Homo sapiens: one gene and its partners. The protein of the gene in region 1 interacts with the protein of each later gene in a pairwise test. Each region holds a gene or a part of one and is shown on either strand. Other genes may lie near its edges. The genes, in order: TRIM41, PUS7L, SYTL4 and FAM9A.

Region 1 (7,027 bases):
TTTTAGTAGAGATGGGGTTTCACCGTGTTGGCCAGGCTGTTCTGAAATTCCTGACCTCAGGTGATCCGCCTGTTTTGGCCTCCCAAAGTGCTGGGATTACAGACATGAGCCACTGTGCCTGGCTACACAAAGATTGTTAAACCTGCCTGATTGTTGGAATTACTAGGGGAGGTTTTCAAAAATACAGTGGATCCTACCACTAGAGTTTCTGAATCAGTGAGTAGGAGAATATCTTTAAAAAGCCCAGTCTAGCATGGGGATCACTGCATTGGTAACATTGCCTAGCTGTTAGTCCCTGCATTTTTAGCAGAGATTGTGAGGTCCTGTTGTCCTTTCCATCTCCTCAGTTCCTAGTTAACCATACCCATCATATCATGTGTGGTCACTTTGTGAACAGGAACCCAGGCCAAACTATCCATGGGCATTCCACCCTTTCTCTTTCACCTCCCCCTGTAGGACTGCTCCAAGGAGCTTCTGAAACTGGATTTTAATTTGCATTAGCCAAATTTGTTCAATGCCAGCTGCCTGAAATCCCGTATTAGGTCCTGAAGTAGGTGAGGAATTAAAAAAAGTCATAATCTCTTTTCTTTTCCCCCCTTTTTTTTTTTTTGAGACAGAATTTCACTCTTGTTGCCCAGGCTGGAGTGCAATGGCACAATCTTGGCTCACCGCAACCTCTGCCTCGGATTCAAGCGATTCTCCTGCCTCAGCCTCCCGAGTAGCTGGGATTACAGGCATGTGCCACCACACCTGGCTAATTTTTTGTATTTTTAGTAGAGACGGGATTTCTCCATGTTGGTCAGACTGATCTCGAACGCCTGACCTCAGGTGATCCGCCCAACTTGGCCTCCCAAAGTGCTAGGATTGCAGGCGTGAACCACTGCGCCTGGCCATACTCTCTTTTCTTGATCTGTTTACTGCGCTCTGCAGTTTGGGAGGCCATATACACATATTTAATCTGACATTAAGTGATGAGTAAATGTAAATACATAGTTTTATTGTATAGGACTAATTTGAGTGATTCCCTTTCTGACTTAATAGGCTATTTTACAAGTGGGTCATTTATTTTTTTATTTTTATTTTTTTTGAGATGGAGTCTCGCTCTGTCGCCCAGGCTGGAGTCCAGTGGCGTGTTCTCGGCTCACTGCAAGCTCCGCATCCCAGGTTCACGCCATTCTCCTGCCTCAGCCTCCCAGGTAGCTGGGACTACAGGCGACTGCCACCACGCCTGGCTAATTTTTTTGTATTTTTAGTAGAGACAGGATTTCACCATGTTAGCCAGGATGGTATCGATCTCCTGACCTTCTGATTTGCCCGTCTCGGCCTCCCAAAGTGCTGGGATTACAGGCGTGAGCACCGCGCCCAGCCACAAGTGGGTCATTTATTCTTTTCAGATATGTACATGCAGTAACCAGTAGCTTGGCAAAATGTTTTGTAAAAATTTTTTTTGTTGAATAGGTAATAACACACAAATGATATGTAAATATAGTTCCTGAACAGTTACATGTTTGTTTTGTTTTTTTTGAGACAGGGTCTCACTCTGGCCAGGCTAGAATGCAGTAGCATGATCATAGCTCACTGCAGCCTTGACCTTCTGGGTTCAGGTGATCCTGAGTAGTAGCTGGGACTGGAGGTGTGTGCCATCATGCCCAGCTAATTTTTTTTTTTTTTTTTTCGTGGAGACAGGGTCTTGCTGTGTTGCTCAGGCTGGTCTTGAACCACTGGCCTCAAGCAATCTTCCCATTTTGGCCCCTCAAAGTGCTGGGATTACTGTGTCTGCCCGACAGTTAAATGTTTTGAAAGTTGGCCGGGCATGGTGGCGGGTGCCTGTAGTCCCAGCTACTCGGGAGGCTGAGGCAGGAGAATGGCGTGAACCCGGGGGCGGTGGAGCTTGCAGTGAGCTGAGATCACGCCACTGCACTCCAGCCTGGACAACAGAGCGAGACTCTGTCTCAAAAAAAAAAAGAAAAAATGTTTTGAGAATTTCTCTTATAACTGGCTGGCTGTGGTGGCTCACGCCTGTAATCCCAGCACTTTGGGAGGCTGAGGCAGGTGGATCACTTGAAGTCAGGAGTTCAAGACCAGCCTGGCCAACATGGTGAAATTCCGTCTCTACTAAAAATACAAAATTAGCCAGCATGATGGCATGTGCCTGTAATCCCAGCTACTCGGGAGGCTGGGGCAAGAGAATCGCTTGAACCTGGGAGGCAGAGGTTGCAGTGAGCCAAGATTGTGCTACTGCATTCCAGCCTGGGCAACACAGCGAGACTCCCATCTCAAAAAAAAAAAAAAAAAAAAAAAGGAAATATATCTTAAATAGAACTCTGTTTGAATTTGTGCTTATTAATTTTTGTTTTTGTCAGCAATTTAGGGTCCCGGCACGGTGGCTCACACCTGTAGTCCCAGCACTTTGGGAGGCAGAGGTGGGCAGATCACTTGAGGGCAGGAGTTAAGACCAGCCTGGCCAACATGGTGAAACCCTGTCTCTACTAAAAATACAAAAATTAGCCAGGTGTGGTGGTGGGCACCTTTAATCTCAGCTACTCGGGAGGCTGAGGCAGGAGAATTGCTTGAACCCAGGAGTTGGATGTTGCAGCGAGCCGAGATGGCACTGCTGCACTCCATTCTAGGCGACAGAGCAAGACTCTGTCTCAAAAAAAAAAAAAAAAAAAAAAAAACAGTAAATGGTAAATTTAAGCGTTATAAATTCTGAATTAATGGAGAAATTATTGACTAGAAAAGTAGAAAGTTATATCAGAAGGCCAAATTTTGTGTAGTTCATGCTATTGTCACGAGTTGACTATAATTCCATTATTACTGTAATTTTGTCTACAACCACTTATCCTGTGCAGCAACTGCTGTTTGCACTCTGGCTTGGTAAACTCTTTAGTTCAGGGGTCATTATCAGGATGTCACTGGCAGCTTAAGGTATAGGGAACAAATATTAGATAACATTTACTGATCTTCTGCTACATGCCAGGCACTGCAGTAAGTGTGCTATCCATGAGGTCCATTCTCTTCTTATTTGAAGCTGAGGAAACTGAAAGCATGGCTTGCCTGAGGTCACTTCACTTCCCTCTGGTCCTGACTGGAGTCAGGCTGGAGCTCTCCTACCCTATATTCTCTCTCAAAGAAAAGGAGACAGGCTAGTAGAAGACATAGAAAAGGTAAGAGCAAATAGGTAGGGCTTATTCCACTCATTCTGGGCTAACAGCCCTTTAAAGAAAAGTATTTGGCTACAAATTGTAGAAACACAGAGCTCGTGTGCCTATTGGCTATAACAGTTACAACCTTTGGAAGAGGGGTTTCGGTGTCCTTTGCCATTTAGCAAGTAATTGAGCAGGAGAGAAAGCAGATGAGCAGAAAGAAGCAAAGAAGTTGAAATAAGTAGAGTGTGGGCAGGGACTCCGCAGTGTCCTGGAGGAGGCACACCTGTCATTGGTGCCCTGGGAACTCATGTATTAGATATTTCTTGGGATCACAGAGGATGTTGGGGGTGGGGAGGATCAGGGCCATTTTCAGGGAGCTGTTTTAAAGGAAGAATACCTTGGGCCAAGTGGAGAAAGGCACTCCCAGACAGAGGGAACAGCATGGAATTATACTCAGGAAATGACAAGTAATTTTATGTGGTCAAACGTGTTAAGAGTCTGTGTGGAAGGCGTTGAGTGTAGAGGTGAGGCTGGAAGTGTGGGGTCAATGTTTTGGAAGTGGTGGTGACCCATGGAAAGGTTTTAGCATAGGAAAAAAATCATCAGAAAAGTATTTAGAGAGAAGAGTTCTGGGGAAGATCGCCTGTGAAGGGGAAGGGGACCAAAGGTGAGGGCACCCCTGGAAAGACTCTGGTGCGGGGCTCAAGCCACTTCCCCTCAGCTGTGAGCGTGGGAGCTCTCTAGTCTTGAGGCTCCTACCTTTAGAGAATACACACAGGGCCGGCCGGGCGCGGTGGCTCACGCCTATAATCTCAGTACTTTGGGAGGCTGAGGTGGACGGATCACGAGGTCAGGAGATTGAGACCATCCTGGGTAGCATGGCGAGGTGAAACCACGTCTCTACTAAAAATAAAAAAATTAGCCAGGCGTGGTGGTGGGCACCTGTAGTACCAGCTACTGGGAAGGCTGAGGCAGGAGAATCGCTTGAATCCGGGAGGTGGAGGTTCCAGTGAGCCAAGATCGTGCCACTGCACTCCAGCCTGAGCGACAGAGCGAGACTCTGTCTCAAAAAAAAAAAAAAAAAAAAAAAAAAAAAATACACACAGGGCTTCTGCAGACGTGCACAGAGGGATTGGAGGCTTTTGTCATCATCTGAAAGAAGAAAGTGGAGGAAGGTATAATACTCACTTGACACCCATTTTCGGGGGTAGGGATCAGGCTTTGACCCATCTTGCTATAGGGAGGATTGCAGAGGTAGGCTCTGAAGGGCAGGTGCCTCTCCCAGCCCCCACTTTTCTTTTTCTGTTTCCTCAGGCCAAACTGCAGGGGCACGTGGAACCACTGAGGAAGCACCTGGAGGCAGTGCAGAAGATGAAAGCCAAGGAGGAGAGGCGAGTGACAGAACTGAAGGTGGGTGAATGTTCTCGACGGGGCTGATGGGCAGTACAGTCGAGGCAAGGAAGGTAGGGCTTCCCACTCTCACAGGGAGTGACTTGGTCCCCTGAGGAGGGGACAGCTAAGGCCTGGGAGAGGGGTAGATGCTTTCCCTAGGTGCTGAGGAGAGCGGGGCCTTAGAGAATCAGGAGGCATGTTCATTCCTGGTTCCAAAATGGAGTGGAAACTGAGGCCTGGATTGGAGGGCCTAGGTGCCTGGCCCAAGGCTGCAGAACAGGCTTTCTACCCGACACCAGAGCCTGAAGGGGGCAAAGCAAAACCCACATAGCAGCCATCAGAGAAGCTGCCGGCCCCAGGATCCATGCAGGCACTGGGCAGAGCAGCCCTAAGCATGAGGCGGACACTGTCCTGGGACACTTGCTGTGTCCTGAGAGGGGGCCAGTGTGTTTAAGCTGGGGCAGGATTTAGTGTATGTTAGCACTGCAGAGACCTAATATTTCCTAGTCTAGTGTTTTCTCAGCACACCCCGACCCCCCCGCTTTTTTTGTTGTTTTTTTCCATTATTGCTCGCCCTTCTCCAAGGAGTCTTTTAAGATACATTTTCCATCCCCACCTCCCGCCTGTTTTCATAACCCCAGCAGGTCCTGCTGGGATGGGCTGGCACTGTGAGCTTCATAGACCAAGCCAGGACCTCCCCTTCTGTCCCTCTTCCCTCCTCCCTTCCCAGCCAGTGCCTGGGCCTTGCCACTACCCAGGGCCCATGCTCACTGCCACCTGAACGTTAGGGACTCTGCTGCTGGCGACTGCTAGGCACTGAATGGTAGGATCTGTCTGGGAGTAGGAAGTCATCGTGCTTCTGGCCAGCTGCCCAAGTTGATACTTTTGGGCTCTCCTGGGTATAGAGGTAACAGGAGCTGTGTGCCCCTGGCATAGAGTGAAGCTGACTGTGGCGGCTGTTCCCTCACGCGTCTGGTCAGTTGGGACCCTCCTCTGGCCTGCTGCTCACAGCGTCTGCAGCCGATGGTAGCTGTGTGAAAAGTGTGCCTACCACCCAGGAAGGGCCATCCCTGGCAAATAGGGTGGGACTGGGCAGGAGTTTTTTCTGTTACAGGATATTAAGTCCCTACATAATATCCTTGATTTTTGCCTCTTAGCCCACAAAGCATAAAAATACTTACTATCTGGACCTTCACAGAAAAAGTTTTTCCGAGTTCTGATCTGGGGCTTTTGGGTGACTTTCTTAAGGTCACTGTGTTTAATGGCGTCGGGACCCTAACTTCATGTTTTGATTCCTGAATTCTTTTATTTATTCATTTCAAAAATTTTTACCAGGTGCCTACTCTGATTGGTACTATGTCAGGGTCCGAGGACCCTGGCAAACAAAGACATTCCTAGTCCCTGTCAGTGGGAGCTCATGGTACAGTGGGGGAAAGGATGTTAACAGTTACGTCATTTAAACACAACGTTTCAATATTATATGTGCCACAGAGAGATACAGTGATATTTGTGGGGATGGTCCCGATTTAGATCTGGAGAGGAGGGAAGGCTTGTCTTGGAATATTTAAGGTTGGACCTGAAGGATGAGTCAACTTAGGTAGAGTCAGGTGGAGAGGAGTGTTCCAGGCAGAGGTTAGTGAGTTTGAGACCACTGTGCTGGGAGCAAGGGGGTGGTATCTGGTAAGGCTGGTAGGGGATGAGCCTCTTTCCGGGACTATCTTGGACCTGGGGAGTGTAGGGCTCCTTTGCCTTGCATTGAGAAGTAGTAGTTGCAAAACTGGAGGTTATCTTCGTACGTGTTGAGGTGGTGTCTGCCATCCCCTTTGCACCATTCCAGAGCCAGATGAAGTCAGAGCTGGCAGCGGTGGCCTCGGAGTTTGGGCGACTGACACGGTTTCTGGCTGAAGAGCAGGCAGGGCTGGAACGGCGTCTCAGAGAGATGCATGAAGCCCAGCTGGGGCGTGCGGGAGCCGCGGCTAGTCGCCTTGCAGAACAGGCCGCCCAGCTCAGCCGCCTGCTGGCAGAGGCCCAGGAGCGGAGCCAGCAGGGGGGTCTCCGGCTGCTCCAGGTGAGCAATGTCCCCTCCCTGTTCCCCCAGCATTCTGTGTTGGCTGTCAGGCAGTGCTTACCAAACGCCTGTCCAGAGCTGCCTCTTTTCTCCCTGGGAGGAACCCACAGTGATTGAACCTGAAGACCAAAAACATGTTTTAAAGCTGGAAACAGAGTTAATGTCGAATGTGGTATGTGTGGCGATTATACCCAGTGAAAAGCATGAAGATTCGGTTGTAGGAGAGGTTTAAATGACAGTTGAGGAAAGTCTTTTTGACAGTGACATCCTGAAAAAGGTGAGCAAGTCGTATTGTGGAAATGACAGTATCCCTGGGCTCACAGCAGGATGAGGCGAGTTAGGTATGGCGAGGCATGGGGTGGTTGAAATGGATGTGTGTTCATTGAGGGCCGTGAGGGTGCTGCTTCTCCCTTCCTGC
Region 2 (6,853 bases), on another chromosome or scaffold:
ACAAATTTGTGATTTGATTATATTTCAAGGTAGGATTAAGTCAGTCCTGGGCCTTCTCTAATGCCCCCATTAGGACAAATAGAAGCTTTCAAGGTTGAGCCAGAGGAAAGTTCTAACTATATCATTGGCATCAGACAGAAGAAACCCTTACAGAGCTTCCTGGAAACACTATGCAAGAGAATAGTACTCTGATCTCTCACTTTTCACACAAACCCATGGCTACCATACCATATGGAGCTGCAGGAAAGATAAATTGCCCAGGGGCCCCATACTAGTGAGTTCTGTGTTTCCCCCACATTCTCCAAGTAACTTATCATCATCTGGACCATCATCTCATACCTATAATGTATTCTACTAATCTGAACCAATTTAGCAAATCACACCTTCTCAATCCTTTCCATCATGCCATATAGAAATCACTACAAATTCTCCATATCCTAATTTCCTAAGGAATATATAAGATATACTTACTTTCCTTAATTACTTAATTTCCTGTACAGTTCCCTCACTTTCTTGCCCTAATTGAAATCTGGCTATTTCTTCAGGCTGCTTCTTCTTCAGTCCTCTCAAGTAAAGGCTATTTTTTCTTTCCCACCCATCTACCTTAGGACCTGGAGGCTGTAAATATTGGTCTATGTTTGTCACTGTTCGTTGCAAGCCATTTCTTCCTCTACTACCTCCAAAAACCCCAATTCTTTTGAAGAGCCTGCCATTGGGCTTTACCATCTGCTGTCATCCTCTCTCGGATCCCCAGACAACTCTGCTTCATTCACTGATCTCTGGCTCACTACCTTCTTATCCAACATGATTTTTATGATCATCTATATGGATCATCCATTCAATGTCTTGGACCCTCAAGTCCTCAATCTCAACCTCAACCTCACACCTCTACTTCATCTTGGTCATCCACTGTCACGGTCATAACTTTGACTTTCTCATCTCCAAAAACTGCATTAACCTTAAGCATCTGATTCTTATGACTCCCAATGTCCTTTATCACACCAACTTTAATACTTCCATTCCAAAAACTTTTAGATATTGTGAAGGTCCCTAACTCCTGCTTCTATAACTAGCCCACAAACCAGCCAGAATGGTCTTAAAAGGTAAATTAAATCATATCACAATCCAGTTTAAAACCCTCTAGTCACATTTGCAATAAAATCCAAATTACTCACCCTGGCTTCCAAGGACATCTAAGATTAGGGACCCTGCTTATTCTCCAAACTCATTTGTACCTTTACCCCATTACCCACTATACTCCAGCTACTCTGGCCTTCTTCAATAGTTTTGTGCTAACTGTTCCTGTTGTTTAAATTGTTCCCTCCCCAATCATATAGCTGCATCTTTTAGGATTCATTTCCTCAGAGAAGTTTTTCCTGACCAATAATCTACAGGAACCTGCAAGTGATTCTCTTTTTTTTTGAGACGAAGTCTCACTCTGTCGTCCAGGCTGGAGTGCAGTGGCATGATCTCGGCTCACTGCAACCTCCGCCTCCCGAGTTCGAGCGATTCTCCTACTTCAGCCTCCCGAGTAGCTGGGACCACAGGGGCGCGCCACCACGCCCGGCTAATTCTTGTATTTTTTTAGTAGAGATGGGGTTTCACCATATTGGCCAGGGTGGTCTTGAACTCCTGACCTCGTGATCCACCCGCCTCGGCCTCCCAAAGTGCTGGGGTTACAGGCGTGAGCCACCGTGCCCAGCAAGTGATTCTCTTTCACAAAACCCTATTTAATTTTCTGCATAGCAGTTCTAGGTAAAGTTTTTCTTTATTATTTATTGTATATCTCCTCCAAAGAGAATGTTAGTTCCACGTGAGGAGTAACCTTGTCTGCCTTATTTACTACTGATGATCACACATTTTGAACAGTGTCAAGCACATGGTAGGTCTGCAATAAATACTATTGTTAAATAAATGAAATAACTAGTACAAAATAAGAGCTGTAGGAATGAAGTGGAAGATAATTAGAAGAGGCATAATGCAAGAAGTGGCCATCTAAGTCCTCCATAGTTCAAGAGATAGAAATGAGGCAGAGACCTCACAAGTAATGTACAAACAAAACATGCAATGTGTGCAAGAAAAACAAGCAGTCCAGATACAGAGCAGTGGGGATGGGAATGCAGGGAGACTACAGTGCTGGAAAATGTAGCTGAGTTAGTACCAGATTATGGAAGATGTTGAATGCCCTGACAAGGACTTAGAATCTATTGGGTGGTCAATGGATGGCTACTGTTAGTGTTTGAGTAGAAAAGTGACACAATTCCAAAACATGCTTTTGGAATTGTAAGATGATTCTGATGGAAATGAGCAAGATGTATCCGATGGAGTAACAGTTAGAGGAGTTCAAAAACAAAACAGCATGGTCAAGAACATAGCTGTAGGGATTGGCCCTGAAAGAATAATGATCTTTTCTTTCTCCCAGAAAAAAGGAGGAAGACAGACATTCTAAGCAAGTGAAACAGGTAGGGAAACTTGGGGAGAATGTAATTCCAGCATCCTGGTAGAAGAGTGGAACTGACCTGGAGGACAGCAAAGGAGCCCACGTGGCGTTAAGCCTGAAGGTGCAGTATTCCCATTCAACAGAGACTGCTGCTGACAGTGGGCGGGGGAGTAGTTTGCTTGGCCCGTGGTTGAGGAATTCGTTGGCGGAGGAGGGATCCTGAGAAGGTACTAGAAATACTGAACCCAGTCCTGCAGAAGCTACTTAACTTCACAGAAAACTAGGGCGTCGTTGCCCTCCAGCACGTCCAAAGGTGTCCCCGACAAGGCCAGCAGCTCTACCTGTTTCTTCTCCCTCCTCTTACTCTGCCTGTCCAAAGGCACGACACTAGTCCACGTCACCTTTCTTTGGGCGCAAAGGGTATGGATCCTCAATGCCAACCTCGTCACCCCCCCCCCCCACACACACACACACACACACACATACAAGCCCACCATCGCGCAAGAAACTCGACCCCGTCTACCTCGGTTCAGTGGAAGGCATTCATTTGCACAACGCTGTGCGCATGCCCGGAAGCCTTAAGTGTTTCAGCCTCCGACAGGGGCGTAATTAAAGGGGCAGGCGCCCACGTAAAGACGCGCCCTACGCAATACGTGGAGTTTCTCACTTTGTGGAGCCGCCTGGAGGCGCCAAGATGAAGCCCATCGGGGAAGTGGGGCGGGGCCAACCCGGCAGGCCCCGCCCCTTCGCGGCGCTTCCTAGTTCGGCTGGTTCTTCTGTCGCCGGCTTCAGCAGCCCGCGCCCGGGCAGGTAAGGCATTCCCCGCCTTAATGCCTCGGTCAAACGTCGTCCGAGGTCCGCTTCCAGGCCTCGGCACCTCTGCCCCAGGGTTGCTGGGGTCGGCTGCGGAACGGAAATCTCTTTATCATCCGTGAGAAAAGTTAGAGAGGAAGTGGGTTCCTTTGACAGAGCTTACTCCAGAAGAAAGACTTGGGTAGGTCCCCGGTAATCAAGAAGTTCGTCGGCCCTGAGGAAGAGCCTGAGGCTTGGAGGGACGTCACCCAGCTGTTCTGGGGCGCAGTCGGACCTCAAGTTTCTCACCTCTCAGGCCCTGGATTCCGTGAACCCGACTGCGAAATGAAGTCTCTTTTCCCCAGAACCAGGAAGTCAGGCCAGCACCTGACAGATGCCTGTGGCGCCAGCAGCTCGCTGAGCCTCCACACGATTGTAATTCGCTTGTTTCTCCGGCCTCCAAGCTTCCAGGGAATTAGAAAGTGGAGGCGGCTTATGGGATCAGATGAGTACATTCGCAGATGGGGGAAAAAAGTGTACCTGTCAGCTTGGAAGCCAGAGGGAGACAAAGGGATAAAAGCAAACCCTGTCCAGGTGCGGTGGCTCATGCTTGTAATCCCAGCACTTTGGGAGGCCCAGGCGGGCGGATCGCTTGAGGTCAGGAGTTCGAGACCAGCCTGGCCAACATGGTGAAACCCCTGTCTCTACTAAGATACAAAATTTAGCTGGCATAGTGGCGGGCGCCCGTAATGCCAGCTACTCCGGGGGCTGAGGCAGGAGAATCGCTTGAACCCAGGAGGCAGAGGTTGCAGTGAGCCGAGATCGTGCCACTACACTCCAGCCTGGGCAACAGAGGGAGACTCCGTCTCAAAAGAAAAAAAAAAAAAAAAAAGCAAACCCTGAGAAAGCGAGAAAGCACTTTGAGCATTTAGAATGGGAACAAACGGCGCTATTAGTGCTTCAAAAACGTAACTGCCCAAGGCCCCTGGTAAGCAGAGGATACTAAAATCTGCCTTTTCCCTTTCTTGGAGTGGTCCTTGAAGAGGGCTATCGGGAAGTTCAAATTTCTTCTGTTTTCCTGCAGAGCGTTCATTTGAAGTTTGCTTTCTACCTCTCCAAACTGAGCTTCTGATATTCCAGGCCAAACTTGCTCCTTCCTCAGCCTTCTCTATCTCAGTAAATATCGGTAAACTTGGTTATGCTGTCTTCTCACTCTCCACATCAGCCCATAGCTTTCTATTGGCTCCACCTCAGAATCCTAGGACTTCTGCACTTGCTCTGCTACGACCCTGGTCCCAGCCTGCAGCACGTCCCACCTGGCTTATTGGTAGGCTCTCCTAAATGCTTCTTTCTTGCTTCTCTGTCCTTACTCCAACATCCTTTATTCCCAGCAGCCCCAGTATCCTTCTAAGACATGAGTACAGAGCATGTCTCTTTTCTCAAAACTTCCAGCATCTACATCTCACCCAGAGGATAAACAAAGTCAATACAAAAACTCTAAGGCCCTTGAAGACCTGGCCCCTTTACCTTTCTGACCTCATCTGCTACTTGCCTGTTCCCTCCTCTGCAGTCTCACCATGTCCTTGCTGTTGCCCAGTGGGCCCAGTTCCAACCTTTGCATTTACATTTCGTTTTGTCCACAAACTTTTCCCACAGATAGTCCAGTGGCTGGCTTTCTCCTTCTTTTTGACCTTTAATCAAATGGCACCTTCTTATTGAGGCTTCCTGTGACTACCATATTTATAATTACAACCTTTTCTCTATTTCGTTTTGTTCTTTCATTTCACTTGGCACCATCTAACATACTATAGAGTTTATTTATTTGCTTATTGCCTTCCTTCCTCCATTAGAATATAAACTCCATGAATTCAGGTTTTGGTTTTGTTTTGTTTTTTTTCTCTAATTTTCCTAATGCTTCATCTCCAGGGGCCTGGAGCAGTATCTAGCACAAAGTAGACACTCAGTAAATATTTGGTGAGTCAATGGTATTATATTTTGTTTTTTAAATATATGCAAAGCATTTTCAATTACTTACTGTTGTGTTGGATCAATGTTCAAGAAAGATATGTTAAGTTTAATTTATGGTACACCAGCACATATCCCAGTTTGTAATAGGCAGCCCTATCTAATTTAATAGCTCTGGAAGCCCTCACCAGCTTTTGTTCATAATGATGATGTTAAAGTATCTAAAAATAAAGATTAATGGTTATACAGCATATTTTGCTAAGAATATATGGAAGTAAATAGTGTATTTTAGAAAGGATATAAATACATTAAAATTACCATGGTTGATCAAATAAGACAGCCACCATCTCAAAAGCTTAGCTATTTTCTCAGACTTGTTATTTGTACGCTTTCAGTAGATCCTCACTACTGTTCTGGAAATTGAACCTAAATACAGTCTGCACATATCTTTAAAAATAATGTGATATAAGAATAATTTCTGCCAGGAAATAATAATTGCTCCTTTTTTTTTTTGACCACCTATTATTATGTGACAAGATTTGGCCCTTTGCATGTGTTGATTTTAATTCTTACAGCAATTCTTAGGTATTACTATCTCTGTTTTTCAGATAAAGAAAAGCAAGGTGCAGAGAAATGTATTTACTAGCTCTGGTCACAGTTGGCTTTGGTTAGAACTTAGGCCTGTGCAACCTCAAAGTTCATCTTCCCTCCACCCCTGCACAATCTTTTCCTCTGATCAAAGTGCTAATGAAGCAGTCTTAAAACTTTATTAACACATTTGACAAGAATCTTTTGCCCTCCTGTTTTGGGCACAGTACTTTGGGAAGGCATTGGATTCCATAAGCAGGTGCTTATTTTAATATATTTCTCAATCACCACCCCACCTTTTACACTTGTCTGAATTGTCTTACTTGAAAATATGAATGGGTTTTCTTTACTATGAGAGTTAGTGGTATGAGGAAACAGTCATGAAGGTATTTACTTATTTGTAAGCAACATATCCTGTTCCACCTGTGTTAATCCTAAGTGTACTAAAGTAAATCTTGAAGAATTTGAAAGAGATGACACTTTTTAAGTTTTTTTTTGCCCAGTCTGTTTTCATTATTGAAAATTCAGAAAAGCAAAATGAAAACAAAACTATCATAAAAGTCATCACCAAGGGATAACCACGTTAATATTTTGGCTTATGTTCTTGTAAGTATGTGGTTGGGAGTGGTATATGAATATACATTTAAAGTAAAATTTTAATTTCTGGGATTTTGAACTTCTGGGCACATGTGTGGAGGAGTTGCAGAAGGCCTTCTTTTTCCTAGTATCCCTACACTTATCACCTCTGCTGGAAGCCTGGGTGCAGGAGAGCTACCAAATTTATCCCTGGCCTTTAGATAGTCTGGGTTTTTTCCTCAATTCCTTGTATTTTGCTCTAATTTATAAGACTACTAAGCAGTTCTATCTTGTCTAGCTTTGTCAATCATGTTGTACCTTACAGTAGAGAGAAATCTTAGTAAGGAAAAATAACTTGAAGAGAGCAACTGCAGAGTCTATAGGCAACCTAGATACAATTTCTTAATTAAAGTTAAAAAGTCATCAGCCTTTCATTCAACACAAATGTTGTGAGTCGTTGCTGAGGTGAATTTGGTTGGGTCCTAGCTCAGG
Region 3 (7,027 bases), on another chromosome or scaffold:
CCTGCACCCATCAACCCGTCATCTACATTAGGTATTTCTCCTAATGCTATCCCTCCCCTAGCCCCCCACCCCCGACAGGCCCCGGTGTATGATGTTCCCCTCCCTGTGTCCATGTGTTCTCGTTGTTCAACTCCCGCTTATGAGAGAACATGCGGTGTTTGGTTTTCTGTTCTTGTGATAGTTTGCTGAGAATGATACAAACCACCTTTTCTAAAATATATTTTTATGGGCATGGGTCCCACAAGGATGCTATATTAAGATACTTCATCTGAGTCTTGACACCTCAGGACTAACACAGAACAAGTTGTCCATCTGAGCTCAGATTCTGACACTCATGTTACCTGAGCCGTGGTCTTCTCAATAGATAATCTTGCCTTTTTGACTGTACACCTGGGACTGAATGTAATGAAGGGTCTTAAGTTTTCTTGGGCTTTGGTTTCTCTATTAAACCCTAGTAGCCATAAATTGGGAGTATCCGATTAGTCATAGCTTTTCTAACTTCACATCTATCTGGTTTTCTTATTATAACTGTATTTGTGCCTCCATTATTTTCCTGAGTTCTAGTTTTCAAAATATGATGTACTATTTACCATAAAAATATATCACTTGGTTTATTGCATATGAAAGCTGTATTTTTCTTTCATATTTTCCTTTTTGAATTTCTAGAGAACATTCTATGCCATAGTATGGGGAGTAGTGATGGTAGTGAGGTAGGAGGCAGGTATTTTCCTCTAAGATGTTAAGGATAGATTTAGTACCATTATGATCTCTTCTTTGACATGTGGGTTATTTAGAAGTGTCTTTATAAATTTTAAAAAAAAGTATTGTGATAAGAAATTACCTTATTTTAAATTGATTTCTTATTTAATTTAATTTCCTCGAAGTCAGAGACTGGTCTGTATGGGAAGGATTTTTTAAAAAAATTATGCAGACTTGCATTACAGCCTAGTACATGGTCAGTTTTGGGAGTAAATATTCTATATGTGCTTGAAAATAATGTAATTCTCCAGTTGGATATAGACTTTTTTTGTATTCCTATTAAATCAAGCTCATTTTGTTGTTCAACTTGTCTATATATTTACTAGTTTGTATCTGCTTGTACCATTCATAATTGCAACAACAAAGAAGTATATGTTAACCTCTCATTTTGATGGTTGATTTTTCAATTTCTCTCTTTTGTTCCTTTGTATATTTAGTGATGTTTTATTAGTGGGTGCATATTTATTATCTCTATGTAGTGATCTTATCTAACCTTTATAAAGCTTTTATTGTCTTTTTTACTTTTAGATATTAATATAGCTACCTCAGCTTTCTTTTGGCTAGCATTTACCTGGTATATCTTTTCCTATCTTTTTACTTTCAATTTTCCCTTCAATTTATGTTTTAGATGTGTCTCTCATAAATGGCACATAACTGGATTTTTTCCTTTTATCCAGTCTGTTAATTCCTGTATTTCAAAGGGTGAATTTTGCTCATATATGAGTTTCATATTCATTGATATACTTGAACTTGTTTTTACCATTTTACCTTTTGTTTTCTCTTTGTCTCAGTTTTTTCTGCACTTACCTTTGTCTTCTTGCCTTTTAATTTTTGTTCTTAATTTGTTTTCTGCTCCTCATTACTGATTCTGCAAGATCCCATTGCAAACAAGCTGGCTGTTAACAGGGTTAGTGTTGGAAACAACAGCAACCTATGGTGGAAGGTGGGGCTTGGGGTGGGATATGGCTTTTCTGAAAGGAGTCAGATTGGCAAGTGATGGGGAAGAGGAGGCAGGGAGCTGATAGAGTCCATGTCTGATGGTCTTACAAAAACCTTTTTACAAGTATGAGACAAGCATGTCTGATGGGACTGGAGGGAAGGGAAGTGGGAGTGTGAGATGAATGAAGGCTTGAATAGAACCCAAAGGGACTAGGTAAAGGAATTGAACAAGCATAAGTAACAGAATTTATGGGTGACAATGAGGGTTCAGCTGAGGTTGTAGACCAGGAATTATGTAGAACCTGGGTATAGGAGCAGACAAGGCAGGCTAGAGCATTAGCACAGGTTTGGGATTTTCATGGGCAGTTGTGGCAGAGGGATGAAGGTATATGGATATGGAAGGTACTGGTGAGAGTGGTTCAAATGTTGAGCCATCTGGAGTCCAGGATGGGTATGGGGGGAAGATAGATCAGCAGAAGGCAAGTGGACCAAGAGACAATGTGGGGCTCAAGAGACTGTGGTCTTGATAAAGTTGAAGAACAGATAGAGCAGGAGTGAGCTGTGGTTGGAAAGTGGGAATTCTTGAATTTAAGATTTCAGAGGGGGCAGTTCTGGTTGGTCAGGTCCATAAATGAAAAAGAAAGGGCAGATGTACAATATTGGTAGTTCCATTTTCTTAAGATACTATCTTTATTTCCTCAAGGATCTTCTTACTTCCCTGGATTTTGATATTACTTGGTCTCATTATTATGCCAACGTGCCTTTCTCATCACAATATTCTGCTGCCTCTCCACAAGCACCAGTTTTTAAATCTGATATGGTTCTCATTTCTAGTGTGCCTGTGCTATCCTTGCTTTTTAGCTGACAGGTAACTGATAATACCTCTTTTATCCAGGAGCCACTGATTTTTTTGCGCAGTGTTTCAGCCGTAATCACACATATGGGAATTCATTTCCACAATGCTTTTGATTTGTCTGTTTAGTACTTTATAGTTGCTTTGGTTATAATTCTGCCTAGACTGAGCCTGTAGAGCACCAACTCTGGTATCAGATTGCCTGGGCTTGAATCCCTGCAATTTCACTTACTTGCTCTTTATTCTTGGGCAAGTTAGCCTAACCTCTCCTGAATCCTAATCTATACAATGGGGGTAATAATAGTCACTCATTCTTGGTATTGTGGCAAGGATTAAATTAGTTAATATATGTTAGGTACTTGTTTGGCGTATAGTCAATTCTCAATAAAAGATACTGTTGGGGTGACAATGACAGTGATTGCAATATTGGCAGCATATGCAAAATTGCGTACCAGATATTGCATTAAGTGCTAGGGCAGATACAGAGGAGAAGATTGAAAAAGTCCTTGTTTTCATGGAGGGTATATATTCTCCTTGGGGATAAGAACTAAGAACACTTCCTCAAGACTGTCTAAGAAAGGGTGTGTGCAAGAGGCTTAACATCTTATAGTTCAATAAAGACCAGGAAATATACAAGTTGAGGAAATATTGAGGTTTCAGGAACCTGTATAGCTTTGCCGTGTTGTTTATGTTCTCCACTGTTTTGTAGGGAACTAGTAAAAAAAGAAAAAGAAAAAATAAAGTGAAAGAGGCGTGTTGTCTAGTTTCAAAGGAGAGGAGAGAAGGTAAGTGTGATTCTCATTTCCTTTTTCACTCTCTGTCTACCTTGGGCTCTTTGACTCCCATGACTACCAAGTGTATATTATCAGATACATTTTTTCTTCCTGAGGTCCAGCCCTGTGTCTCCAACTATTTCCTGGGCCCAGTTACCTGGATATCAAGTATGCAACACTAACTTAATAGGGTTAAAACAAAACTTTTTGCCTTACTTCCAAACCTGTTTCTTTCCTTACATCTTCTATTGCTATGAGGGCTGTCACTAGCCAGTCAGTTGTTTAATCTTGACTGTGAACTAGGCATCTTTGACTTCACCTTCTTCATCCTCTCTGCTCAGTCAGTCTCCCTATTCTGTCAATTCTACTTCTCAAACCTATTCTGTTTTTTCTTGCTGCCTGGCTCAGGCCTTTATCATTTTAGAAGATTCAGCAAGTATTTGTACTCCAAACATTGTGATTGGCCCTTTAACACACATTATTTAATTTTTTAAACAACGTTTGAGGTGGGTCGTTTTGTAGATGAGAAACCAAAGAGTCAGAAATAAAATGACTTCTGCTGGGCACGGTGGCTCTGTCTATAGTTCCAGCTACTTGGGAGGCTGAGGCAGGAAGATCACTTGAGCCCAGGAATTTGAGTCCAGGCTGGGCAACATAGTGAAACTCTGTCTCTAAAAATGAAAAATAAAATGAAATGAAAAATAAAATGACTGGTCTAATTGTTTAGAGGCACAGTTAGTAAATCTAGATTGTCTTTTGCTGCAGTATTGTAATAATATCTCTGCCTCATTTGTATTGTTTTCTTTTTTGAGATATAAATGGAAGATATATGTAAAAACAAATTAGAACTATGTGAAGTAAAAAGTGAAAGTTGCCCCTTCCCAATTCTACTCCCCAAGGGAAACCAATGATAGTGGCTTTTGTTCTAGACCTTTCTCTTTGCATATACAAATATTTAGATAAATTCTTTATAAAAGATCATTTTTTATTGTCCTACAACTACTTTTTCACTCATGGCCATATTTTTATGTCAGTACGTGTGTATCTACCACATTTTTAATGGCGACATAATGTTCCATTATGGGGACATATTATTTTGTTTAATGATTCCTATGTTAAATAACTGTTTCTGTTCTTACAAATAATGTTGCAGTAATAGTCTTGTGCATATACTCTTGCTTGTGCATTTGTATGAATATTTCTATTAGGTAAATTCTTAGAAGTCATATTGCTTGGTTAAGTATATGCCTATTTTAAATGTATGTACTACCAAATTGTCCTCTGATTTGTCCTCTAAATCAGTCTTTCATATTATAACTAGAGCGATATAGCTATAATATGTCTTTGTAAAGTGAATTTCATCATGTGATTTCCCAGCATCAAAAAGCAACATCAGAGATGTTTGGTGGATTTCTATTGTCTATGCAGTAAATTTTAAAATTAAAAAAAATTTTTTCCAGACAGGATCTTGCTTTGTTGCCCAGGCTAGAGTGGGCCACATGTGATGGCGTGATCTCAGCTCACTGTAGCCTCAACCTCACAGGCTCAAACAATCCTCCCACTTCAGCCTCCCGAGTAGCTGGGAATGCAGCCGTGTACCATCATGGCTAGCTAAGTTTTGATTTTTCTTTTTGTAGAGACTGAGTCGCCCTGTGTTGCCCAGGCTGGTCTTGAACTCCTAGGCTCAAGAGATCCTCCTGCCTCAGCCTCCCAAAGTGCTGGGATTACAGGTGAGAGCCTCCATGCTGAGCCAAAATTCTTAAAATTTTAAAAAAGTTTTTAAGAGTTATGTAATCTGGTCCCAAACTATCTTTCCTACCATTCTTCCCTACCAGGAAATTTGTCCTCTGATAAGGCAAAATCCACCTCTTCTGTGAAATTTCCCATGTATACTGCTCTCTTTCCTCTCTCTATGCAAGATAGAATGAGTTGCTTTCTTCCCTAAGTTCTCATAGCACTTAATTTATAGTCCCTTATAATCCCTCTGATAGCACTTAATGCGTTGTACTGTATTTATGTGTGTCTGTCTCCCCTGCTACTCTGTGATTTTCATAAGGGTAGGAACTGTGCCTTACTCATCTTTGTATCCCCAGCACTTTACACAATGCCTGTCAGCGTAGTGCTCAACAAGTGTTCATGAATTTGGGAAAGATATCCTGGAGGTAGTGCTAGAGTGCTAGTATGATAAGAACTTTGAGAGATAGAGTAGGGGGTGGAAGTTTTGAAGTATAGCAGAAAGCTGACTGACTCCTGGGAGAATGGAAGCTGGTTAGGAATAGACAACTGGGCTTAAACTGGCAGGAGCCTTCATGTGCTTTTCTCCTTCACTGCAGAGACCAGCTGCCTGGTTATTTGGGTTAATAGGCTTGAGATTTGAGAACATTTAAAGTATTAAAAATTGGATGATTGAGGACTCACTTGGTGGAGGGGGAGATTGACTCAGCTGTTCTATGTTCTTTCCAGACTAAGATGCATATACTGAATAACCAATCCTTTTCCCAGAGTCACGAATAACTTTTTCTTTCTGAAAAATCAAGGACTCTTCATTTTCAGGGCATGTTTCGGATGGGAGTAGGAAGACTAAATAGGTCAGATACTTCTACTTTGTCTCTTTAGCTTGGCTCAAGGGGAAAGGAACCTATTGAAAGGGTTTAGGGCTGTGGGCCTATTCTTGAGTAAATCATCTGTGTGAAATTAGTTCTTTTGTCATTTCAGGCAACTCTGGTAGCTCTCCTTGTCTGGTTGTTTTGAAGAAAGAAGAGTAGAAGAAAAAGTTGAGTAAATCATGTCGGAGTTACTGGACCTTTCTTTTCTGTCTGAGGAGGAAAAGGATTTGATTCTCAGTGTTCTACAGCGAGATGAAGAGGTCCGGAAAGCAGATGAGAAAAGGATTAGGTAAGAGTTCCCCAAAACGCATGGGGTCCCAGGCCTTTGACCAATGATGTCTGGGCTTTTCCTTATGTCTCCCACCTGACTTTCATAGGAATTTGTATATGTGATGTTTACCACTACTTATTGGGTCACGCTGGGCTCTGAGTTTGTTGCTTCCACAGAACCAAATAGTCTTACTGTCTTTACCTCTCAACCCCTCTCCATCCAATCTATGCATATCCTGAATCCACTTACGCTTCTGTTTTGGGTCTTGGCAGGCGACTAAAGAATGAGTTACTGGAGATAAAAAGGAAAGGGGCCAAGAGGGGCAGCCAACACTACAGTGATCGGACCTGTGCCCGGTGCCAGGAGAGCCTGGGCCGTTTGAGTCCCAAAACCAATACTTGTCGGGGTTGTAATCACCTGGTGTGTCGGGACTGCCGCATACAGGAAAGCAATGGTACCTGGAGGTGCAAGGTGTGCGCCAAGGAAATGTGAGTGTCACCTATGGCTGAGTAGAGAGGGGGCGAGGCCTTGGCCGTGGTGAGAATTTCTTTCCTCAGCCTTTATTAGACAAGAACCATTCTTTATCCATCTGTCATTTTCTTTTATTTCTTCCCAGAGAGTTGAAGAAAGCAACTGGGGACTGGTTTTATGACCAGAAAGTGAATCGCTTTGCTTACCGCACAGGTAGTGAGATAATCAGGATGTCCCTGCGCCACAAACCTGCAGGTACTGGACCTGTCTAGAGATGGTTCTTGGTATGGAATCCTAGTGTATTCTGACTGGTAGCATCTTAACTCCATGGGCTCAGCCAGTTAGTGGAGAATAG
Region 4 (7,027 bases), on another chromosome or scaffold:
TTGCTGAAAAAGATGAACACACGGGGTAAAGTGTTTAAGTCACTTTTGCCTGTCGGATAGGGTCTTTTAGGAAAAGTCAGCTTTGGTTCATGTCATCACTATTCTATTCTATGCGGAACATTTCACATAAGACATATCTTCCCAACAAACATGGCATTTTGTGTAGCATTATGATAAAATTTTGATGTAACTTTTTTTACAGGATTCATACCATGAAGCTAGAACATATTGCAGGTATGTTTTAGGAGCTATTCGTAGTCTTTGAAAATTATTTTCAACCATACAACTGTTATAGTAGGTTATATGAATTAGTGGACGACGAGACTGTCTTAACATGCCTTCTTCTCATATATAGCATTTAACATATGTATTTAATGTAATGCGTTTAATAAATTTTCATACTTACCTTTTGGATTGTTGATGTGGAATGTGAGAATGCTTCTAACAATGGTGAAGTGAGAGGGATGGCTTTTCTTTCATACACATGGAAATTTAATTATTTGGGGGATATTAGAGGACACTGGAGGAGAAACAGCTCTATTGGTTCCTTTTAGTGTACACAGATTAAGTATATATATCAGGTTTTTTTATCTTTTATTTTAGGTTTGAGGGTACATGTGCAGGTTTGTTATATAGATAATTGCGTGTCACAGGGGTTTGGTATACAGATTATTTATCACCCAGGTTATAAGCATAGCACCTGATGGGTGGTTTTCATCCTCACCCTCCTCCTACCCTCCAACCTCAAGTAGGCCCAGGTGTCTTTTGTTCCCCTCTTCCTGTCCGTATGTACTCAAGAGTTTTTAATATGAGTTTTTATGTTCCTAATTTAGCTATTCTATTGTCACAGCTTTCTGATTTTGTTTTCTTTAAAGTACAAGAGAAAATTGAATTATCTAAAATGATGATATTCTATTATTATTCCAGTAATAAACTGTGTACTAGAAAAGGAAAGACAAGTTTTCTACCCAGTGAGAAACATGTAATTGGATCCAAAAACTCATAAATTTTGTATTGCCATGTGAACTGTTAGTTGCACTGACTGTTATAGGACCATATTTTCAAAAAAAAATTGAGAAAATTTCTGTAGAGACGGCGGAGACAATACTCTTATTTTTAAAACGCTCAATTCAGTTTTCAGCTCTTCTCTAGCGATAATTCATACAAGCAGTATATTTGGAAAGCTTTGCTCTGCTTGGTGAGTAAGTGCTGGTTTTGTGAGCTACCTAACTGAGCATTATAGATGGAGAATGTAAAAAATATTTGTATTATGGTGCAGATCTTTTATGATTGCTGAAAACTATTTTTAGCAATTGATGGTAGATCTCTGATGTGAAACCATGTTTAGGAAAGCATTCCTTGCAGTAGGACAGTTTTCTGAAACACAGCACTGTGGATAAAAATGTCATATAAAAAGCTCCAAGAAAATATTTCAAAAGTGTTTTTGAATGTATTTCTTTACTTAAGCCTAAATTTTTATACCCATGGACGATGCTTCTTTTATTAAAATACAGTTAATAGCATCAATCACCAGATTGCTTAAAAAATGCTCTTCTTATTGTGTACTAAGTTATTTCTACCCTTTTGATGGTCTTATTAAATAAGATACTTTTCTGTATGTTTTACATAATGAATTGTGACAGTATTTCATGGAAACATGTCCTTTGAATTACAGGACATTTTATAAATGTAGAAATTAGAGTCTGTGTTTGTAACGCTTTCTGCACATTTAAAAAATCGAAAATTACTTGCTTTTTTTCATCATCCATAAATTAAGTGATTTGCAGTTATACCAATTGGAATTAGAGTACTAATATTAATACGTAAAAGGTTTTACAGAAAACAAGTGAGTAAATCTTGCTTTTTGAAATGATCTTTGTATTTTACAATGTAAATGTCCTTCCGATATTGCTGAACCATCATATCTCACGTTGATTTCAATATATGCGAAGAAACCACTTTTCAACATTAACTTTTAATGCATTTTCATTTACTATCTAGCTGACATTAAAAAGGGCCTTGCTGCAAAAAGAGAAATGATAAAAATAGATAAAGCAGCTTACAGGAAAACCAAGAACACAATTGAACGTGCTTTGAAAAAAAAACAACTAAAAAGGTATGATTGTTGGCTTTTTTGCATAATGATATTTATATCATTTCTTTGTATTTGTTGGTGCAAATAATTTCAAAAACTGTCCTGTACATATTGGCGTCTCTAGGGAGCAACATATTTTACTTGATTGTTCCCTAAGCAGGTAAGTTTCTTTTGTTTTATAACCTCAGTTTAACAGAATTGAGGCATATTATCTAGAAAGCCAATGAAGATGACCTCTTTTTGCCTTCCAGATAAAAATAGTCTTCCTGTAAAATTAATTTTTATCCATTTCTAGAAATATGGCAGCTGCATATAAGATAAATGTCTTCAACGTTTAGTCTGTAGATCCTTAACAATATTAAGTTATGTGGAAAGGGACAACCTTATGTTGTAAATATGTTATCTATTTTAGTTAAATTGTTTTCACTATTCCTTTTAGAAAATCATTGTTGTGCCAAAGTGGAGAAAGAGTTAAGTGAAGTATTTCTTTTGGGAAATCTTACAGGATGAATGGCTATGATATTCTTGAACCTACTTATGAGAACCCATATGTTATTTAGTTTGAGGAAATGAAAAGTAAACTGCTGTTAGAGAAAATTATTGTTTCTGGGAAATTTATAGTGCAGTAAACTCTCCTTTGTTTTCAGCACATAAAGAATGTAAGATAGCTGCTCTAGTAGTCAGTTAGGAAGGGATCCTTTCAGAATGACAGTAACTCATTTCACCTTTTCCCAAAAAGAAGATTTCAGCTGCTATTACTCCCTTGCTACTTTATAGTATAAATTATGTGAAGTCAGTTTTGGTTTGAATAGGATTAATTTTTCATCTCTCTATGACATATGACCGTATTACTTATTATGTGTTACAGGCAGAAACGTGATTATAGACATACTCGGAAGTTGCTGAATGTCCTTAAAGAATACATCGCAGAGAAGCAGAAAGATGATGAAGCAGAAGAAGCAGAAGCCGCAGCAGCAGCAGCAGAAGCCGCAGCAGCAGCAGAAGCCGCAGCAGCAGCAGCAGAAGTAATAGTAGTAGAAGACGAAGAGGAGGAAGAGAAGGAGGAGGAGGAGGAGAAAGAAGAGGAGGAAGAAGAAGGAGAAGAAGAAGGAGGAGGAGAAGAAGGAGAAGAAGGAGGAGGAGGAGGAGAAGGAGAAGAAACAGAAGAAGAGGAAGAGGAAGAAGAAGAAGAGGAAGAGGAAGAACAAATTGTTGGTATCAGGCTTAGCTTTATGATTAACCTATTGTATCAATGTCTCAGGTAGTAATAGTTCATGCAGAAATCCAGCAAAGAAGGAAGAGAGCATGAGCCCAGAGAGGGGGGCCCATAAGTGGACTCATGTACTAGGGGAATATAATTGCCACGCAGCATTAGGGGTCCAACTGAGGTCAGCATCATAGCGATAAAGAAGTTAAAGTGAGCCCGGTTGGCATATTTGTGCAAAAGCAGCTGTAGGGTTGGAATTTCCTGGGTTGGGGTGTAGCTGCGCACGTTGATAGAAGGAGAGTTGGGCAGGGCATAGATGCAGGGATGGGGATATGATGACTGGCTGTGGAATTTCAGCTGGGACTGAGTTACCTGAGCACATGGGGGTGGGCAATGGGCAGTGAAAAGTGTTCCATTCAGTGGGTGTCGGGTCTCAACAGACTCCTGAGCTGTAGTACTGAAGTGAGTGACCTACAGTGGCAGGAAGGTAGTGGCTGTATGTTGGGAAGATGGAGAAACAGCTGAGTGCAGTGGTCAAGGGCTGGGACACTGCAGCCCCACTGCTTGTAATTCAACTCCAGCTTGACGATTGCTAGCTCGGGAACCATGGGCAAATTATTTATCTCTGTGCCGAAATTTCCTTATCTGCAAAAGGAGACACGGTAAGAGAACTTATGTCAGAGTTATTTGGAGGATTGAAAGGTTCCTGTGTAATGGGTTTATTTAAATTTTTCAGGATGTGATCTGACCCATGATTGCTCTTTATCATTGCTATTATTAATATTATGTAGATGTTGCAGTCATTGGGAATGATAAAATCTAGGGGATGACTGTATAAGTGAGTGCCACGTAGAGGAGAGGAGAACACTGTTGTTGGAGATTAGGTCAAGGTGCAGAAAGGCAATCATTATTGGAAGGTTCATCCGTGTGCATACTGAAATGACCAAGATTTATTACCTGTTTAAAATCTTAGTAAGAAAGAATGTTTCTTAGTTAATTTCTGTATATATCTTACCCATCTGTGGTCAACAAATTATAGGAAGGGTCGTCAAATACTCTACATTCAAAATCAAGAATTAAGACATATGTGTTGATTATGTATGTAGAAGAAAGAAAATTCCTTAATCACTGATGAAAAAGGTTATTATATCATTTTAGCATATGGGTGGTGAACACAGTTGTTTAAAATTGGTCATAAACATTGTTTAAAAGAAAGTGTTAAGAAGTATAGATTTAAAGAGTATTCCTATAAAGCTAATGCAGAATTATGTTTTGTAAGTATTAAAAATTACCCAATTTTCATCACTATTTTTTTGTGCTTCTAGAAAGCATTTCAAGAAAAACAGAAGAGGTGGCAACAACCTACAGGTGTTAGGAGCTGGAGGCTGAGAGAGATGAAGCCGCTACTTGAGCAATTACTAAAGGTCTGTTCTATTTGGTAACATAATACATTATAAAATACAACACGTGCATAACAGAAGAAAGTCTGTTTGTTTCCGAATGTATGGAAAGACATTTTGGTTATGCATTTTAAATTACTTACCATTTTCACTTTGAATGTATTGTTCCAAATTTAACATAACTGGTAAATGTATTTTTAGGATTCGTGAATAGTTTTGTGGGAGTTATTTAGAACAGGAAAAGGTAAATTGGAAATTTTACCTGGAAATATACATCTTGTGTATATTGTTAACGCATTGACACATTTATGCCGGAGGCTGCACATTTTTTGTGTGTGAAGAAACAGACCTTGGCTATGTTCTTGAGCGGTAGGAGATACATGATTCCCACAAGCTTAGCGTTCCAATAATGGAACACTAGGCATAAATGGGTTTTAATGAAGATTTTATTTTCAGTTTTCAGGACATCAATGACACATCTATGGTGGAAGGCAGGAAGACCATAAATCCTTTCTGGATGTCTTTTTTACTTGTGTTGTTTCAAGAGTTTTAGTTAAATAGGAAGTAGGCAAGTGTAACTACTGAGTGTCTCTTTTATTTCCTGCTGTAATACAGGAGTGTTTTATGGCATATTCACTTTCAAAATTATCAGCGACTAGTAATGGTTTTACATGACAATTTGTAGTCATAAGAGATGGTTCAGATGTATAACAGAATGGGAAAGCCAGCAAATTATTAACACGTTGTGAATTGTGAATTATCTGCTGTCGTATAGCACATTAGCAAATTGTCATCAATGACCTCTTCTTCATGTAGATGTACATTATTTAGGTAACAATGGAATTCCCTTCTGGGAGGTAAGGTATTCTTTTTAATAACCTTGTGAAAAGACATGTTCATATGTCACTCCTCTACACTAACTGAGATGTGTTAAATAAACTGAGAAAAGAGTTTGAAAATAAAATTTTCAAGCAACTTGAGAATGATCTATACACAAAACAGTTATTTAAATAGAAGTCACAAGTAGAGAAAATGTTGCTATAATGTTCACCAGAAACCATTTATTAATTGGTATGAACATGAGACTAGAAGTTTTCCTGTCAATGTTAATGCTACATGTTACCACTTAGGGTAGGAACTTTGCTATCATCTTGGACTCTTCTAAGTCCCTTATCCTTCCCATGCAGTTATCATGAGGCAAGTTTTACCTCTGTAATGGCCCTTAAATTTCTTTTTTTAAAATTCCCACCGCAGCTGCCCTAGTTCAAGACCTCATTCTTCCTTGCTTGTACTATTAAACTCTTTTCTGAGTTCTCTCTTCTCTTCTGAGCCATCCTTCATTGATCGGCAATATTATCTTCCTAAAACCCTCCCCTTCCTAAAATGCTTCCTAGCCCTTCCCTCTTCCCAGCCTGTCAGTGATGCCCCGTCTCAGTTCTTAGATATTCAGAGACTCTCCCCTTTACATGACCCCCTCTTAGGCTTGCCGCCCTCTGTCTTTGCTCCTGCCTATCCAGGTTGACAGCTTTCCCTGAAGGAATTCACTGTTACTCTTATGCTTTTCTCATGCTCTTCCCTCACAATGCTTTAAAAAAATTTTTTTTTGACTAAGACCAATTTAAACCTTTTGCCAACTAAGTCAACATACGTCTCCATTTTTGGCTACATGTCTGAGTGAGTTGCCCTTCCATAGCAGTTATACAATTTTTGTATTAATTTTTTTTATTTGTGCATTTGCTCATGTCACAGGATTATGGAAGAGATTGTGCTTACATTTTTTACATCTTCCTTAGCATTAACATACACCATTTTCAGGAGTAGGAACTGTTGAACTATTTGTTGAGGGAATAGTATATATTTCAAACATAGTTACATTTTTCTCTAACTTGATGAGGTCATATCACCAACCATTTTATCCCTTCAATGGAAACCACTTTCCGTAGACTATTGCTGATAATACATGGGTCACTACCTGCTGAAAAAATATATTTCATGGTAAGCCTGCCTGACTTTTTCTGTCTTTGCTCCATCTTGACCTTAAGATGCTCATCAACCCATTTTATTCAAGCAAAGTACATGACAATTGGACCTGCTAAAATAATATTTCACTGAAATCTGGCATTAAAAAATTTAAGTGGGTATTTGGAGCTCCATGTATTGGTTACAGTTTTTTTCAAATTGAAATAAATAACCAGCATCCTTTGAATATTAAAAGCTGTTTCCTTTTGACATCTGATTAACCCTGTTTAAAACGTGAGATGTAAAGTGGTGGTTTGTCAGTGAACTAGACTTTTTCTTTTAGGCTGCCAAGGACACTAAAGACAA

Evidence for each region.
Region 2: the proteins of TRIM41 (region 1) and PUS7L interact in binary tests that used the Homo sapiens proteins (3 or more experiments, as listed by UniProt).
Region 3: the proteins of TRIM41 (region 1) and SYTL4 interact in binary tests that used the Homo sapiens proteins (3 or more experiments, as listed by UniProt).
Region 4: the proteins of TRIM41 (region 1) and FAM9A interact in binary tests that used the Homo sapiens proteins (3 or more experiments, as listed by UniProt).

Annotation. Positions count from the first base shown.
Region 1 is NC_000005.10:181,226,281-181,233,307, forward strand, and holds part of TRIM41 (E3 ubiquitin-protein ligase TRIM41), read left to right. Parts: intron 1-4,463; coding exon 4,464-4,559; intron 4,560-6,378; coding exon 6,379-6,609; intron 6,610-7,027.
Region 2 is NC_000012.12:43,755,767-43,762,619, forward strand, and holds the start of PUS7L (pseudouridylate synthase PUS7L), read right to left. Parts: upstream 3,025-6,853; 5' UTR 2,984-3,024; coding exon of another isoform or gene 2,964-2,983; exon of another isoform or gene 2,938-2,963; coding exon of another isoform or gene 2,927-2,937; exon of another isoform or gene 2,520-2,926; intron 1-2,519. UniProt on the Homo sapiens protein: Pseudouridine synthase that catalyzes pseudouridylation of mRNAs.
Region 3 is NC_000023.11:100,701,120-100,708,146, reverse strand, and holds part of SYTL4 (synaptotagmin-like protein 4), read left to right. Parts: intron 1-3,260; 5' UTR 3,261-3,336; intron 3,337-4,961; 5' UTR 4,962-5,054; intron 5,055-6,039; 5' UTR 6,040-6,109; coding exon 6,110-6,219; intron 6,220-6,473; coding exon 6,474-6,689; intron 6,690-6,817; coding exon 6,818-6,927; intron 6,928-7,027. UniProt on the Homo sapiens protein: Modulates exocytosis of dense-core granules and secretion of hormones in the pancreas and the pituitary. Interacts with vesicles containing negatively charged phospholipids in a Ca(2+)-independent manner.
Region 4 is NC_000023.11:8,791,357-8,798,383, reverse strand, and holds part of FAM9A (protein FAM9A), read left to right. Parts: coding exon 1-25; intron 26-202; coding exon 203-234; intron 235-2,001; coding exon 2,002-2,116; intron 2,117-2,963; coding exon 2,964-3,306; intron 3,307-4,627; coding exon 4,628-4,726; intron 4,727-7,004; coding exon 7,005-7,027.